Regions from separate parts of the Homo sapiens genome. Here region 1 is reported to be linked to region 2. The links are microRNA targets in miRTarBase. Many come from high-throughput screens and were not tested one by one. Region 2 holds a microRNA gene; the other region holds the end of a gene's coding sequence.

Evidence for each region. The annotated mature microRNA hsa-miR-3151-5p reads GGUGGGGCAAUGGGAUCAGGU and lies in region 2 at 4,109-4,129, shown strand. An mRNA with a match to its seed (bases 2 to 7 or 8) in the 3' UTR can be bound and repressed. Matches are read on the target gene's strand: a 7mer-m8 pairs with bases 2 to 8, a 7mer-A1 pairs with bases 2 to 7 and ends in A, and an 8mer does both.
Region 1: the mRNA of RNF40 is a reported target of hsa-miR-3151-5p. Seed matches in the 3' UTR shown: 7mer-m8 at 6,476-6,482 and 7mer-A1 at 5,102-5,108.

Annotation. Positions count from the first base shown.
Region 1 is chr16:30,773,567-30,780,675 of GRCh38, reverse strand. RNF40 (ring finger protein 40) reads right to left here. Exons shown (of 20, transcript NM_014771.4): 20 at 4,369-6,738. The coding sequence ends at 6,562. ZNF629 (zinc finger protein 629) reads left to right here. Exons shown (of 3, transcript NM_001080417.3): 3 at 1-2,220. Among named protein-coding and RNA genes, the nearest start is that of ZNF629, 10 kb to the left of the region's middle. RefSeq lists enhancers at 4,317-4,426, 4,756-5,432, 5,433-6,111 and a silencer at 4,757-4,836.
Region 2 is chr8:103,150,515-103,157,634 of GRCh38, forward strand. MIR3151 (microRNA 3151) reads left to right here and starts at 4,100; the gene lies at 4,100-4,175. All of the region lies in intron 1 of BAALC (BAALC binder of MAP3K1 and KLF4), which reads left to right. It overlaps BAALC-AS1 (BAALC antisense RNA 1), which reads right to left. Exons shown (of 3, transcript NR_109954.1): 3 at 6,476-6,524.

The sequences.
Region 1 (7,109 bases), not on the chromosome of region 2:
TGCCCAGCCAGGGACTTCTACTCTGCAAGGCCTCCAGGGATGGCGGTTGCCTCCCACCACATTCTCAGGTCTCACCTTCAGGAGGTTTTTCCTGAAATCTAACTGCCGCCAGTGGCAGCTCATTTCCTCAAATTCTGTCCTCAGTGGAGAGGGAGAACCGCTGCTAGTCGACCTCCAAAGAATAAAGCCCTTCAGAGACTTAGGGCCTGCGTGTGGGCCTCCCCAGCCTTCTCCAAGTCATCAGGGCCACAGAATTTCTTAGAAAGCTTTGATTAGCCAGCAACTTGATTTTAAACTTCAGCTATTCATCTTTGTTGGTAGCAAGGCTGCCCCGCAGGATAAGGCAGCCCTCCTCCCTGGTGGGGATCCAGACACCCCACAGACTGAGCCACAGGTCCCTGAAGAGTCCGCAGAGGCCGTATCACCCTCTTCACCCTGGTACCTGGAGCCCTCCAGGGTTGTGAGATCCAGCCCAATCTCAGCCTTGAGATGGATGGGATGGATTCCACTCACTTGGCTCCCCTCTCCTCCTTAGCCAGAAACCTTCAGAAGGAAACAGAAGGATGAGAAAGCCTCCCTTGCCAGGCCCATCTCACCTCCCACACCACACAGTTACACATTCATAAACAGCCAAGCCTGCTCACAGGCCTGGGCATATGTGGCTGGGGAGAGACTGTTGCCCTATGAGATGGTGGAAGACAGAAAACTCTTGAATGAAACATCTGTAACAAGACTCCCACTCCCTAATCCTGGAGACCCCTTCAAAAGGAGAGGACTCTGCTCAGCGCTGGGTCAGAAAGGAAGTGCTTGCCAACCCCAGTAATGCGCTGTCCTGGAGTAAGAGGACTGAGATGCCAGCTGTGGGGCCCGTCAGGAGTCACGTCTCAAGAGAGGGGTGACCCAGATTTTTGCAAAGCTGTGGAAGAGACCTCTAATTCCATGACCTAAAGTTTCACACAACCTTTATGCAAATCCTTCGCCATTTGTCTATCCTGGCCCCAGCAGGATGACCCTCACATTTAAAAGGATCAAAATCTCAAACATTGTGGGAGGAAAACGCCAGGCCTGCTGGGGAGAGGGAGAAGGCAGGCCTCAGGATTGTGCGGAGAACCATGTTGCCATCTGCATAACGCCCCAGCCTATCCAAGTGCCAGGAAGGGAAGCACTACTGAGGGGGGTGCTGCCTGTGGGTCTCTTCCTAACAGAACGCCAACGAAGGGGGTGCCCTGTAAGAATGAGAAGTCTGCCAAGTCTAAGGAGATGTCCCCCTCCCCAAGATGGTAGCAGAAACTGAAGTTGTAAAGACAAACCTCTCGCAAAGCCAGAAGCAGATGCTCTCAAAAACAGGCCTAAGGAATCTGTTCCCAGAAGAGGCCTGGGGAGCAGCTTTTGGGGCTCAGAGGCCAGTCTGGGGGGAGGCAGGCAGTGTGACTGAAGGCCGGCGCAGGCCTGTTTCGGACTAGGGTGTAGCATATTTAGTAGGATGCTCACATGTTGTAGGGATGGGTGAGGGCTAAGGGGCTTGGCTCTTGTACGGGATGGATGATGTGAGCGCACAGTTCGTAGGGTCAGGCGTCTTGCGGTAGGAAAGGGGCAGGGTTCGATACCTCTGGGGTGTGGCGTGTTCTCTCTTGCCCACCTCCCCAAGCTCCTTTAACCAGGAGCTTCCCTCCCAGAGTGAGCTACGTCTTGGGAGGATTGAAGCAGGGAGGTGGCAGTGGCTAGAGTTGCTCAGATCGGCTCAGATGAAGGCCCAGGGGTCAAAGCATTTGCTCACCACAACTGAGTCTGGAAGGCACTGTGCAGCCAAACCCTCTTGTCCAATCACATGCAGGCCCCAGGCCCCTCAGAAACGCCCTGGTGGAGGGAGGAGCCCAACAGATAGGGTCAGGGAGTCAGTGGGGAAAGCAGAGGGGAGAGCTTAGAGTGAAACTTGAAACTGCTATGGACATGGAGGTCAGATGGGAACTTGGAACTGGGCATGAATCCTGAATGGTGGGGAAACTTGAAGCCATCACAGCCAAGAGGTGGGGTTCCATGACCTGCCCTGAGGTCAGCAGCTCCCAGACTCCTTTGCCCTCACTAGGGAAGCCCCAGTCACCGGACTTGTCCCCATGGAGTGAAGAGAGGCCCCATTTTTGAGTGTTGTGTGTCCAAAACAGTGTTGTGTCACTGGTGGTCATGTTGCTTAGTTGAAGAGAATAAAGGGAATAAGATTTCCTGGGTGTTTCTTGTTTTTTCTTTCAGCCTAAAGTGAGCTGAAAGAGTGTGGCCTCACCTTAAGCCGGAGCCCAGGAGTGACTGCAAAAGCTCAGCCCAGCCCCAGGCCCACCCTTCACCCAGGGGCCCTAAAATCCCCATCCATTGCTGGCTTGTGGGAAGCTGAAGAGTTTATGAAGTTTTAAGCTGCAGTCCCTTGGTGCGGAAAGGGATAAATCTGATGAGATGGCAGCCAAGCTAAGCTGTTCTCATCGGTGCCTGGCCTTCCCACCAGCAGGACTGCAGAGTGGCCGCCTGGTGGCTCTGGCGCTGGCCAGCTCAGGCCCAGCTGTGCAGCCCCAGGGAGGCCTCTCTGACCACCATACCCGCAACCTGCCACAGGGAAGTTCTGAGGATCTAGTTTCAGAAGCTGGCATCCACCACTCCTGGTTCACTTGGGGACCCTGGGAGAGGTGGGTGGAGACCTGGCTTGTCATCACTGCCAGGATGTCAGCCCTTGTGCCCTCACTGTGTGGAGAGGCGAGGCTCAGAGAAGGGCAGCCAATTGCCCAAGATCCACAGCAAGTCCGTGAAGGAAACCAGAATGGCCAGGAACTCAAGCATGTTTTGTGCCCACTCCATCCCAATCTCAGGCCTGCCTCAGTGCTCAGTCTCCTGGGCCCTGGGCCTGGCCATGGGGGATTGGGGGAATCCTGCCCCAGCCAGAAAGTGTCTCCCCACCTTTCCTGTACCCCTCTGACCACAACCCAGGGCAGGTTCAGTGTCTCCTTCCCTTCCCCACCTGGAAAGGGGGGTGGGAGGAGAGGAGAAGCAAGTAATGAAGGCTACTCTACATTCTCTGTGTGCCAAGCCCTGGGGACACTGAGGTCTATCAGGAGTCCCAGTGCTGGAGAAATCTGCAGGAAAGTGACTACAGCAGAAGAGCAGACACAGGGCAGTGACTGCCTCAGAGATTTCGCAGAAGGGCTGTGGACCCAGAGATGGTGCCTGCCACAGTGGAGGGTCAGGAAGCTTTCCGGGGAAAGTGACCTGAAGGATGAGGGCTGCAAGAAGACCCAAGAGTAGGTGTATCGGCTGGGGGTGGGATGGAGGACAGGGGTGCATAACAGTTGGGTATGGGCTTAGAGCAGAGAGGGGACTATGGGAAGACAGAGGCAGAGAGCAGAGCCCACAGTGTGGAGCCCCTGGAGGAGCTCGGGGAAGGTACCACTTGGGGATATTTGAGAGTGACATGATCTCTCTTCTCTCCACAAGAACAGTGGTGATTCTCCAGGTCTGGAGCTCAGGAAAGAGGAGTGGCTGGAGCAGTTAGGTCCTTATCAGCTTAGCTATAGCCATAACCATGAATAAACACACACAAAGTGGCAAAGTAGAAGGTCTAGTTTAGGGGTGGAGGAAGAGGACCAGCAGAAGACAGTATGAGAAAAACCAGGACAGGACAGCGTAGCACCGTCGGATGCAAGGGAAGTTTTGAGAAGACAGCGGTCTACATCAGGCAACCCACTGGCCAATCACAGGCAGTGCCCAAGGTCTGGCTGAAACGGGCATGTCCACCACTGATGCCAACATCTGTTCACTCCCAAGAAGACAGCCAAGGTCGGGGTGGGCCCAGGAGTAGTTTTGGTCTGCCAGTCCCTGGGCAGCAGCCCAGGGTACCGCTGCCACTGGGACCACTAGGGGTGGTAAGCAGTCAAAAAATTAAGGCAAATCCTCCCGGCACCGGAGCCTCATGGGAAATGTTTATTAAGAGTTTGGTTCCTGGCCGGACACAGTGGCTCACGCCTGTAATCCCAGCACTTTGGGAGGCCGAGGCAGGCAGATCATGATGTCAGGAGTTTGAGACCAGCCTGACCAACATGGTGAAACCCTGTCTCTAAAAATACAAAAATTAGCTGGGCGCAGTGGTGCACGCCTGCAGTCCCAGCTACTCGGGAGACTGAGGCAGGAGAATCGCTTGAACCCGGGAAGTAGAGGTTGCAGTGAGCCGAGATCGTGCCACTGCACTCCAGCCTGGGAGACAGAGTGAGACTCCGTCTCAAAAAAAAAAAAAAAAAAAAAAGGTTTGGTTCCTGCCACCACATCAGTGGTTGCTGCCTCACTGACATTGTGGGATCTTCACCCCGTTCCCTTGGACTTGACCTTGAAAAAGTGGTTTGATGCCGACTTTTATTAGGTATGAAGACCCACGAGGAGAGTTTTGCCCCTCTGATAAGGAGACCGGGTGGCCTTTAGCGCAGATATCTAGAGAGACGATGCGGAATTACTTGGCATCTACTCAAGAGCCCAGGCGAAGGCTACTCCTGGAAGGGGACCGCGCTTACGGAGGCCTGGCTGACCTCCACCCGTGACCGGTGCGGCGCTCCTGAGACTGGCGCTCTCCAGGGGCGAAGGTGGCCGCGTCTCTATGATGCAATATCCTGCGTTTTTCCCACCCTCGCACCGCTGCCCCAGGCCATCGGCACTTTCTCTGCGGCCCGATGTCCTCCCCTGCCGCGGCCCGCGCTTCCACCAGCGTGCCCGCCGCCGCCGGCCCTACGCCCGAGGTCACCGTGGCGGCCCGCGTCTCCTTCTCCAGTTCGTCCTGGTCCAGCAGCGGCGGCCCCGCTTAAGTCCCGGGCGCCAATAGGGTCCGAAGGCGCCACCGCTGAGACGCACGCGGCCCCTGCCGTGGCCATAGCACTGTCGCCAGCGCCTGAACCAACACCGCTCCGCACCGGCTCTGGCGCCAGCCCCAGTCCTGCCTCGGTGAAGGATCCGCCCGGGGCGCCTGCAGCGCGCTGAGCCCAGGGGCGCCGCTCGGTACACGCCGCACCGCTCCCGAGGCCGATTGCAACGAGGGAAGTCACCCAGCTGAGGTGTCCCGATCTGTGCATTCGAGTGGTGTGGGGGTGAAGCCGCTGAGAAGCGGTCCGCAGGATCCAGTTCAGGCCGGCCTTTGGCCAGCGCAACCGGGAAACTAGCTCTCTCTCCGAGAACCTCCTAACCATGTGCGGACCAGGAACTACACTTCCCAGGATGCAGCCCGAGGAGTCCCGGCATCCCCCGGCCATGACAGCCAAGGACGTGGTCAGACCGGGGTCGGTGGGAGCAGGACAGGCGGCTCCGCGACGACCACCACGCTCTCCCCTTCAGGCCCAGTCCGGGATCCCTGCCGGCCGTTAAGTCTGAGCCCTCCCAGGCTCACACCAAGCCAGCAAAGTGCTGCTCAGCTGCTGCAGCTAAAATCGGGGGACTACATTTGGGGTGCGCGGCCTGGCTACTCTGGCTGCAGGCCGAGGGTTGAACGTTTATTCATCACAATTAACAGCCTATACAAGCATCTCTAGAACAGAGGCTGTGGGTCCAAACGGGTCCCTGCAGCTCCAACCCTCTGGCCTCTCCGGGCACTGCCCTCACAGCCGATGGAGCATGGCTGGGCAGGCAGACAGGACACAGGCTCAGTCACAGGGTGTCAGGGGGAAGCTCTTCTAGCTGGAATGATTGGAAGTTGGCCCAGCGGCTGGGGCTGGTCTGTCCCTTCCCCTCCTGGGAAGTTCCACCTCCACTGTAGTTAAGGCCACCAGGATGAAAGCAGGGTTAGGTCCAGGGACCCAGTAGAGCCTTGGGATGCATGAGGTGGGGGTAAATGGGCTTGGCAGAGAAATGGAGATTGGGAAGGGGCCTGATTAGAATAGAAACTGATGATGTTGGTTCAGCACCTGCAAGATGAGGAAGGTGACTGCAGCAACCTTAGAGCTTCCCAAAGGAAGCAAGTGATGCCCCCATCTGCCAAGAGGGTACCTCCTTCAGCCCTTGGCACAAGAGCCAGACCAAGGTGTCCAGGGAACTCCACAGGACAGAAGCCCTGCCGAGGTTAGGGGGATGGTGGGTGAAGGAAAGTCTTCCTGGGGCCTGCAGCCCAGTCTCAAACAAGGAACAAGGACATGGCTCACTGGTCCTCATTTGTGAGCCAGTAGGCAGGGAGCGAGCCTTCTCTAGGGTAGATCACAGCCTGGGGAATTTTCCTTAGGGTTAGGATGCATCCACGGAGACAGACAGGTTAGGGCCAGTTTCCGGGAAGCTCAGTCAAGTGCTCTGGGCTCCTCAGGCCTCTCAGGCAGACCTTTTCTGTAGGGCAGTGCCCCCTAGGCTGCAGCTCTGACCTTTAGGAAAAGATGGAACGAAGCTTGGCTGATCCCATGCCCACTAGCATGCACCAGGGTCCCCAAACCAACTAGATGGGCAGGGGCTGGGCCCATGGGGTCCGGAATGGAGGGTGGGGCCACTAGACCTGGGGTGGGGAGGAGATGGGGGCACAGCCCCCAGGGTCCATGGTGTTCCAGAGTCCCCTGAGTTTCAGGTTCAGCTGATGTAGATACGATGGAAGTCGTGGGCACCAAAGGCCGCGTTGCACTTGGGGCACTTCCTCTGGCGGGCCTCATAGCGGCCCCGCACGCACTCGAAGCAGAAAACGTGGAAGCACTTGGTAAGGACTGCATCCTTCTTGCGGGTGTTACAGCAGGGGCAGGTCAACCGCGCCTGGGCCAGGCAAAGGCATCAGCTTGGGAACAACTCTGACAGTGCCCAGACCCCAAGCTGACAGCAGGAGGAGTCCAGGCCAAGCCCACCACACTGGAGACTGCACCTCATCCTCCCATAACCCTGGAGGTAAGGACGAGCACTCTATGAATGAGCAAACTGAGGTGCAGAGGCCAAGGTCTCAACACTAGAAATCAGCAGAGTCCGGATTCATCACTGGGCAGTGATGGCTATCATGTGTCCCCTCAAAAGGACAAGGACCCACAGGCCCAGCCTGGACTCTGCCTTGGGGCTTCATCTCCTGCCCCACTGGCCGCCTCTGGTGAAATCCCAATCTTGTCTACCTCTTCACCTGCACTTGCTAAGTCACA
Region 2 (7,120 bases):
ATAGGTACCTAATGTCTGCCTACATCTCACCATGTGGCTTCTGTGTAATGAAGCAAAACCAAAAGTCTGGGTAGGTTTTTCTTAATCTAACACAATCTGCTTTACAAATGATGCCAGCTTCTCCTAGATTCTGGGATTAGGTTGCCTACCAGTCTTCACTTGTGGTGATGTTGTGAGTCTTGGTCTTTTTCTATGTCTTCACAGGCATTTTAGTGGGCAGTTAGGCAAAGCTGATGCCCTTTGGCCTGGATATCCAACCCAGGGATTCTTGACCTTCTTCTCTAAGCCATTATCCTGAATTCTGATACAGCCACACCCACAGGATCACCCGGCCAGATCCGGTCTCTGTTTACAATTTCATACACTTCCTCCCCAACTAGTGAGCCAGCTTTTAACAAGGATCATGACCTCGGGTCCCTGGGCCTCAACCTGCTCTCTTCATCCATCACCCTCCCTGCTACTTTGTTTGGAGATAATATAATAGTTGCAATGTTAAAGAATTTGATTTTTTTTTTTTTTTTGAGATGGAGTCTCGCTCTGTTGCCCAGGCTGGAGTGCAGTGGCTCAATCTTAGCTCACTGCAACCTCTGCCTCCTGGGTTCAAGCGATTCTCCTCCCTCAGCCTCCCGAGTAGCTGGGACTTCAGGCACCTGCCACCACGCCCGGCTAATTTTTTGTATTTTTAGTAGAGATGAGGTTTCACAGTGTTAGCCAGGGTGGTCTTAATCTCCTGACTTCGTGATCTGCCTGCTTTGGCCTCCCAAAGTGCTGCAATTACAGGTGTGAGCCACCTCACCCGGCCTAGGAATTTGATTTTAACAACAGGCATTTATCAGCTGTGTGACCCTCAGCAAGTTTCTTAGCCTCTCTGGGTTTCAGTTTCCACATTGTAGGATGGGACTTATCGAAGAATTAATGCATTCACAAGTACAAAGGGCTTAGTGTTTCAGTGTTGTGCATTCTAGCAGCCAGGATCCCCTCACATCCTCACGCTTGCACCAGGCTTGTCATGCCAATCTCAAACCTTGGGTCACCCTTCCCCTCTGTTCCTTACACTCTTGTTTTGGAGCTGCCCAGCATTTCTGGAAAAAGTCATGCATGTTATGATTGCCCCTATAAGCAATTCATGCTCTAGAACAATGATCTCACCACCTCTCAGCAATTCTATTCATTCCTCATTAATATGCGGTGACAGACCCCATATAATAGCCCCTGATGCTATCCTATACTTTCCCTCTGAATATAAAAAAAAAAATCACAGACTTGCCGTGAATTCTCCCATTTTTCCTTCCAGTGACCCAGCATACATCCTTCTTGCCATCTGAGCATTTCTAAACATCTTTAGCGATCCTTTCCTCCTAGTCTGTCCATTTGAATTCTAAGTGCACTGACAAGGTTGCCCCTTGTTGTAACCATATACGGGAACCTCACAGGCAGCTCCATTTGGATGAAGGTCTACTCTGCATCTCCATGGGCCCTCCCCAAGCCCAAGCCACATCCGTCTTCCACTTGAACATCTGCCATAGCCTGCTTCCATTCATACCCTTGACAATTCATTCTTCATGTCATAGGCAGAACGATCTTTTAAAAACATATGTCAGGTCCTGTCACTCTCTTGTTTAATGCCTTCTGATAGCTTCCTGTTCTACTATGTGTAGAATAAAATCCCAGTCCCTTCCTTGGCCTCCAGGGGCCTGCATGACGAGGTCCCTGCTGATTTTCCAGCATGATTTCATTGTTTACTCTGCTCTGTTTTTTGCTCAGCGTGTTCCGGCCACGCTTGATTCCCCTCTGTTCTCTGAATACATGGAGCCCCTTCCTGTCACAGGCCTTCACACTTGCTGCAATGTGCTTCCTCCCCACACCCGCCCCCTCTGTGTGGTTAACTCCTCTTCACCCTTTGGCTCTCAGTTCAGATGTCACCTCCTCAGAGAGACCAGCCTTCCCCAGTGGCCATCTGGTCATTTCCTTCCTAACACCACTGCCTGTCATTGTCTTGTTCGTTTACTGTTTATTTCTTGACTCTCTCGCTTCAAGAGGTCAAGGATCTGATGGACTCACCCACTGTTACAGTCCAAGTGCTTAGAACAGTGCCCAGCACAGAGTAGGCACTCGGTGGATGTTTGTTGAATGAAGGGAACCCTCCACACCTTTTGTACCAGTTAGGGATTGCATCTGGCTGCCTGAACAGAAACCAACTCCAGGAATGGGATTTAGCCCATGGAAGGTCTGCACAGAGGTCTGGAGGTCGGCGGCCACACCCAGTCACGGACACTGTGGAGGAGCTGGGCTCCTTTGGCTTTATTGCTCTGCCATCCTTAGTGTGTGGATTTCATCCTCATGGCTGCGAGATGCTGCACCATCTTATTTCAAATGGGAAGAAGGAGACGGGCAGAAAGGGGCATTCTGCCTGATCTGTTCCTTATCTGTAAAATGACAGTTTTCCTCAAACCCAGTAAACTTTGCTTGGGTCTTATTGGTCAGAAGTGTATGATGTAGGTGTTCTGGGCTACAAGGGTGTCTAGGAACTCAAAACTTTTAGCTTTTTACCCTATATTGACCAGGCATTGGATGTGGGCTTCCCCAGCAAGGGGATGTGATGTTGTGTGAGGTCATTTCCTTCCACACAGGGAACTTTCAAGCTACCCTAAAAGTATCAGGGTCCTCTTGGCAAAGGAAAAATGGGGAGAACAGATACTGGGCAGGCTGCCAGCAGAGTGGTCACTTCTTTCATCCTATAGCTGTGGTCAGAGAGGAGAGAAGATTTCCAGGAACAAGAAGGGGGAAAGGAATTAGGTAAGTGAGGAGGGAGAGAAGTTCTGCCAGAAACCAAGGTGACATGATTGCTAGTGTTACAATTTTGCCGTAACAACAATAATAATATTGTTTTTAATATTTTCATGTTTCAAGTAAGTTCATAAGGTGAACATTCTCTGGAAAAACCACATATGCTAATATTGAAATAATTTTTAAAAATAATGCAATACCTTAAACTTTAATCTTTTAGAATGGTCTTTTAACTTCAGACTGTGCTGTGTACGTGAAATGCATGGTGGACATTCCCTTGTCTTCTGCCTTATTTTCCTGCAAGATTAATGCCAGCCAGAGACTGATGTGCCAGCTAATATTCCATGGCACCAATTTCCAGTTAGTGGGAACATTTGTGGGTGTCTGCTGTGCAGGGTCACACTGCTGCTCAGGCTGGGAGCTTCTGTTGGAGAAGCAGCTCGCAGCCAACTGGCAAATTTAAAGAGTTGACAGTGTTTTCTGTGGAAGTTCAAAAAACCCAACCTGCTGCTGTCTCTAGGGCTTGTGGACTTTAGGGCGTTAAGAAACTGGAAAGGCTTGCAGAAAATAGCAGGGCAGTTTGGGAAACTGGTCACCATGACAACAGGGCATGGCAGCGGTTACAATGGAAGCAGAGACCGCCTGTGCACCCTTCCTAAGAGGAATGATTCAGGCTTAAGCACCTCAATAAACAACTGGCATGTTTGAAACCGAGGCCTCATTAAACGATTACCTCCAAGAATCACTTTTCAAGGGCAGTCTTCATAGCAGTCAGGCTCACACTTTCTTGCTGGGGTGATAAGTGATGATGTACAAGCACAAACGAACACAGCTACGACCTCATGGTGTGGCTTCCATTAATTGGGTGCTCAGCATGTGCCGGGCTTTGCAGATTTATTAGCTAACTCTGTTATTTCCATTTTACAGAAGGGGGTAGTCAGAGCGGTGGGATGGCTTGTCTAAATGTACACGGGCTGTGAGCAGTGGGGTGGGGTTTGGAACTCAGGTCTGTCTCATTCTGAGCCCTGTGGTCTTTCCTGTACACCAGCCCCTTCATGGATTGCTAGCTTCTGTCCTCACCGCCTTTCACCTAGACATTTGCAACAACTTTTGGACTAGTCTTCACACCCCCAGTCACTCCCACTCCAATCCCCTTCACATTATTGCCAGGTAAATACTCCCAAGTACAGCTGGGATCATTATTGTGTTATTCTTCCACTCAAAGCCTTTCATGATTTCCCACTATCTACTGAATACAAATGTCTTAGTATGGAATTCAAGGCTTTCTCTCCAGCCTCTCCATACAACCTTTGGGGTGATGGGTGGGGCAATGGGATCAGGTGCCTCAAAGGGCATCCCACCTGATCCCACAGCCCACCTGTCACCCCAAAAGCCTGCTGCTCCTGCCCTTCTGCTTCAGTTATGTGTTCCCTGATAGCACACACCATTTAGGACACTTACTCCCTTTTGAGTTTTCTTATTTATGATTGTGACTTATCTCTGCTATTATACTGTATACTCTTAAAGACAGAGCCAAGAAACAGACTCTGAGGTAAACCCTTACTGGAGAGAGCTCTAGTAACACCACCTGTGATGTGGGCCTCTTACCTATCTCAAGCTATATATATATATATATATAATATATATGGAGAATAGTATAATAAACCTCCATGTACCCATCATCAGCTTCAACAATTATCAACATATTGCAAAGCTTGTTTCATCTCTGCCTCCATTCCACTTCGCCAATTAAACATTTTTGAAGCAAATTCCACAAGTCATGTAACTTCATCCATGAATACTTCAGTATGAATCTCTAATAAACTGGGACTCTTTAAAAAAGATATTAGATTGGACCATATCTATTAGATTGGACCAAAAAGATATTAGATTGGACCATTTTGTTATTTTTGTAGGTTGAAATAGTGTAATATTAGCAATTTCATATACTTCAAACTAATATATAACCATGATACCATCATCACACCTAAAAATTAATGAAAACTTCTTAATTCTCTAATGTAATAATAATTCAGTCAGCATCCCAGTTTCTCTAATAGGGTGAGGGGCACAGTCCAGGGCAGAGGGAGGAGTGGAATGGCTGTTGTAATAGGGGCTTCAGCTGATGCCCTGGGGAGCTCTGGAGCTGGGATGGCCATTCAGCAATTGAGAAGACTGGGCCTTTTTACCCTGTATCGGCCAGGCGCTGGATGCAGTCTTCCCCTAGCAAGTAGGTGTGACCTTGGGTAAGGTCATTTCCTTCCACAGGAGCAGTGCCTGGAGAGGCACTCAGCTGTGATCCTTTAGCGGCTAACTCTCCTAGCAGCTGGAGAATCTGGTGCTGCCGTCCCATAGGAAGACCTGGCAGTAATCACCTTACTCATCTTTCTGCTTCCCTAGTGGCTGCATATCAGATTCACCTGGGGAATCTCAAACAAACGTCCCACCCCAGGCACTTCTGATTTGGTAGTGGGAGTGCAGCTAGAAAACCTGCAGTGTCTCCATGTTCTCTAGGTCAGTGGAGAGTGAAATTTCGTGGGTCTGGGGTGGACCTGAGATTCTGCATGTTTGACAGGCTTCCAAGTGATGCTGATGCTGCTGGTCCAGAGGTCCTAGATCAGAGGTTAGCAAACTTTTTCTGTAAAGGGACAGAGGGTAAATATTTCAGGCTTTGTGGGCCACGTGATTTCTTTTGCAACTACTCAACTTCTCTGTTTTTAATGCCAAAGCAGCTATAGACAATATATAAATGAATGAGCGTGTCTGTGTTCCAATGCCCACTCCTGTCCTAGATGATTTTGAAGCACAGCCAGATTTAAGAGCCACTGTCTTTAATCCCCAAGGCAGTGTGGAAGAGAGAAAAAAAAGCATAGGATTTGCAGTTACTAGTCCTAGCCCTCAGAAACATCTCTAAATAGCTCAGCACATGCTGAACACTCAAATAATGTTTCTAGAATAACGAACAGACAATGAATTAATGGAATTAAGTTCATTTCTCACCGTGAAGGCAGTTTTTAAAGTATCTTGGATAACATTTGTTCATCAAAGTATTAGAGATTTTATTATGCAAATCATGCTCTTGAGTTGGGTGGGATTCAGGAAGAATATGGCATCACGCAGAGTAAGGTAGAGGGTGCTTGAAGATCAATTTCATCTTCATAAGGGATTCTCCTTGCCTTGGGCTCTGAGGAATGTTGGGATGCCTTAATCCCTTCAGCACAGGTCACTGTTGATTTAGAGAGTTGGGTGCAGCTACCATGGCCTGAGTTGTTTTCTCAGCTGAATCAGATTCAGACAGGGCTTCTTCTGAGACGGTGGAATGTTCTTCTAACAGGCGTGAGGAATAATTATCTCACTGTGTCTCTCTGAGTTTCACTTACCTTTCCTTAACTCTGTTATTGCCACAGGCTGTAATGCCAGAAATGAGGGTTTTTGGAAAGTCGCTGCATGTCTGCTTGGTTGTGAGTCTGGGCAGCTGATGAATGGGTTGCTGTTATGGTGTTTACTTTTCTGAATCAGGTGTTCCTTTGCAGAGGCAGGGGGCTTCCAGCCATTATGTAAGCTTTCAGAAAATACCCAATGATCTTCTTAGAGAAAGAGCACCATTTAAATAGAAGCTACTAAAATCGTTAACACGGGGACCCAGAGAGAGTGTGCCCATGCCCTTTAGCCATATTTGTCTCTTTTGCACATAAATTCAAAATTCAAACGCTGACTCTTCTTGGGATTGCAAAACCCTGTAGCAGTAAGCAAAAAATTAGTGTGGAATGTATATGATATACAAAAAAGTTATATGAAAAGGTGATCTGAATATGTGTGTAGGTACACACACACACACACACACACACACCACACACAAATGGAGATTATATCTTCAATTGAGCATCAAACACCATCTGGTTGCAATTGCTCAAAACAATTCTAGAACCCCTTAATTGTAGCCTTAGACATTTTTTAATATAACATTTCAAACATATATGAAAATTTGAAACTTTATACGCACATATTTCAAGCTATATATATATATATTTGGATAATATTATATAATAAACCCCCACGTATCCATCACAGCTTCAACGCATTGCAAATCTTGTTTCATCTCTGCCTCCATTCCCCTTCATCAATTGGGTAATTTTGAAGCAAATTCCGGAAGTCATGTAACTTCATCCATGAATACTTTAGTATGAATCTCTAAGAAATTAGGACTCTTTTAAAAAGATATTGGGGCTGTCATGGTGGCTCACACCAGTAATCCCAGCACATTGGGAGGCTGAGGCAGGAGGATCACCTGAGCCTATGAGTATGAGACCGTCCTGGGCAATATAGTGAGGCC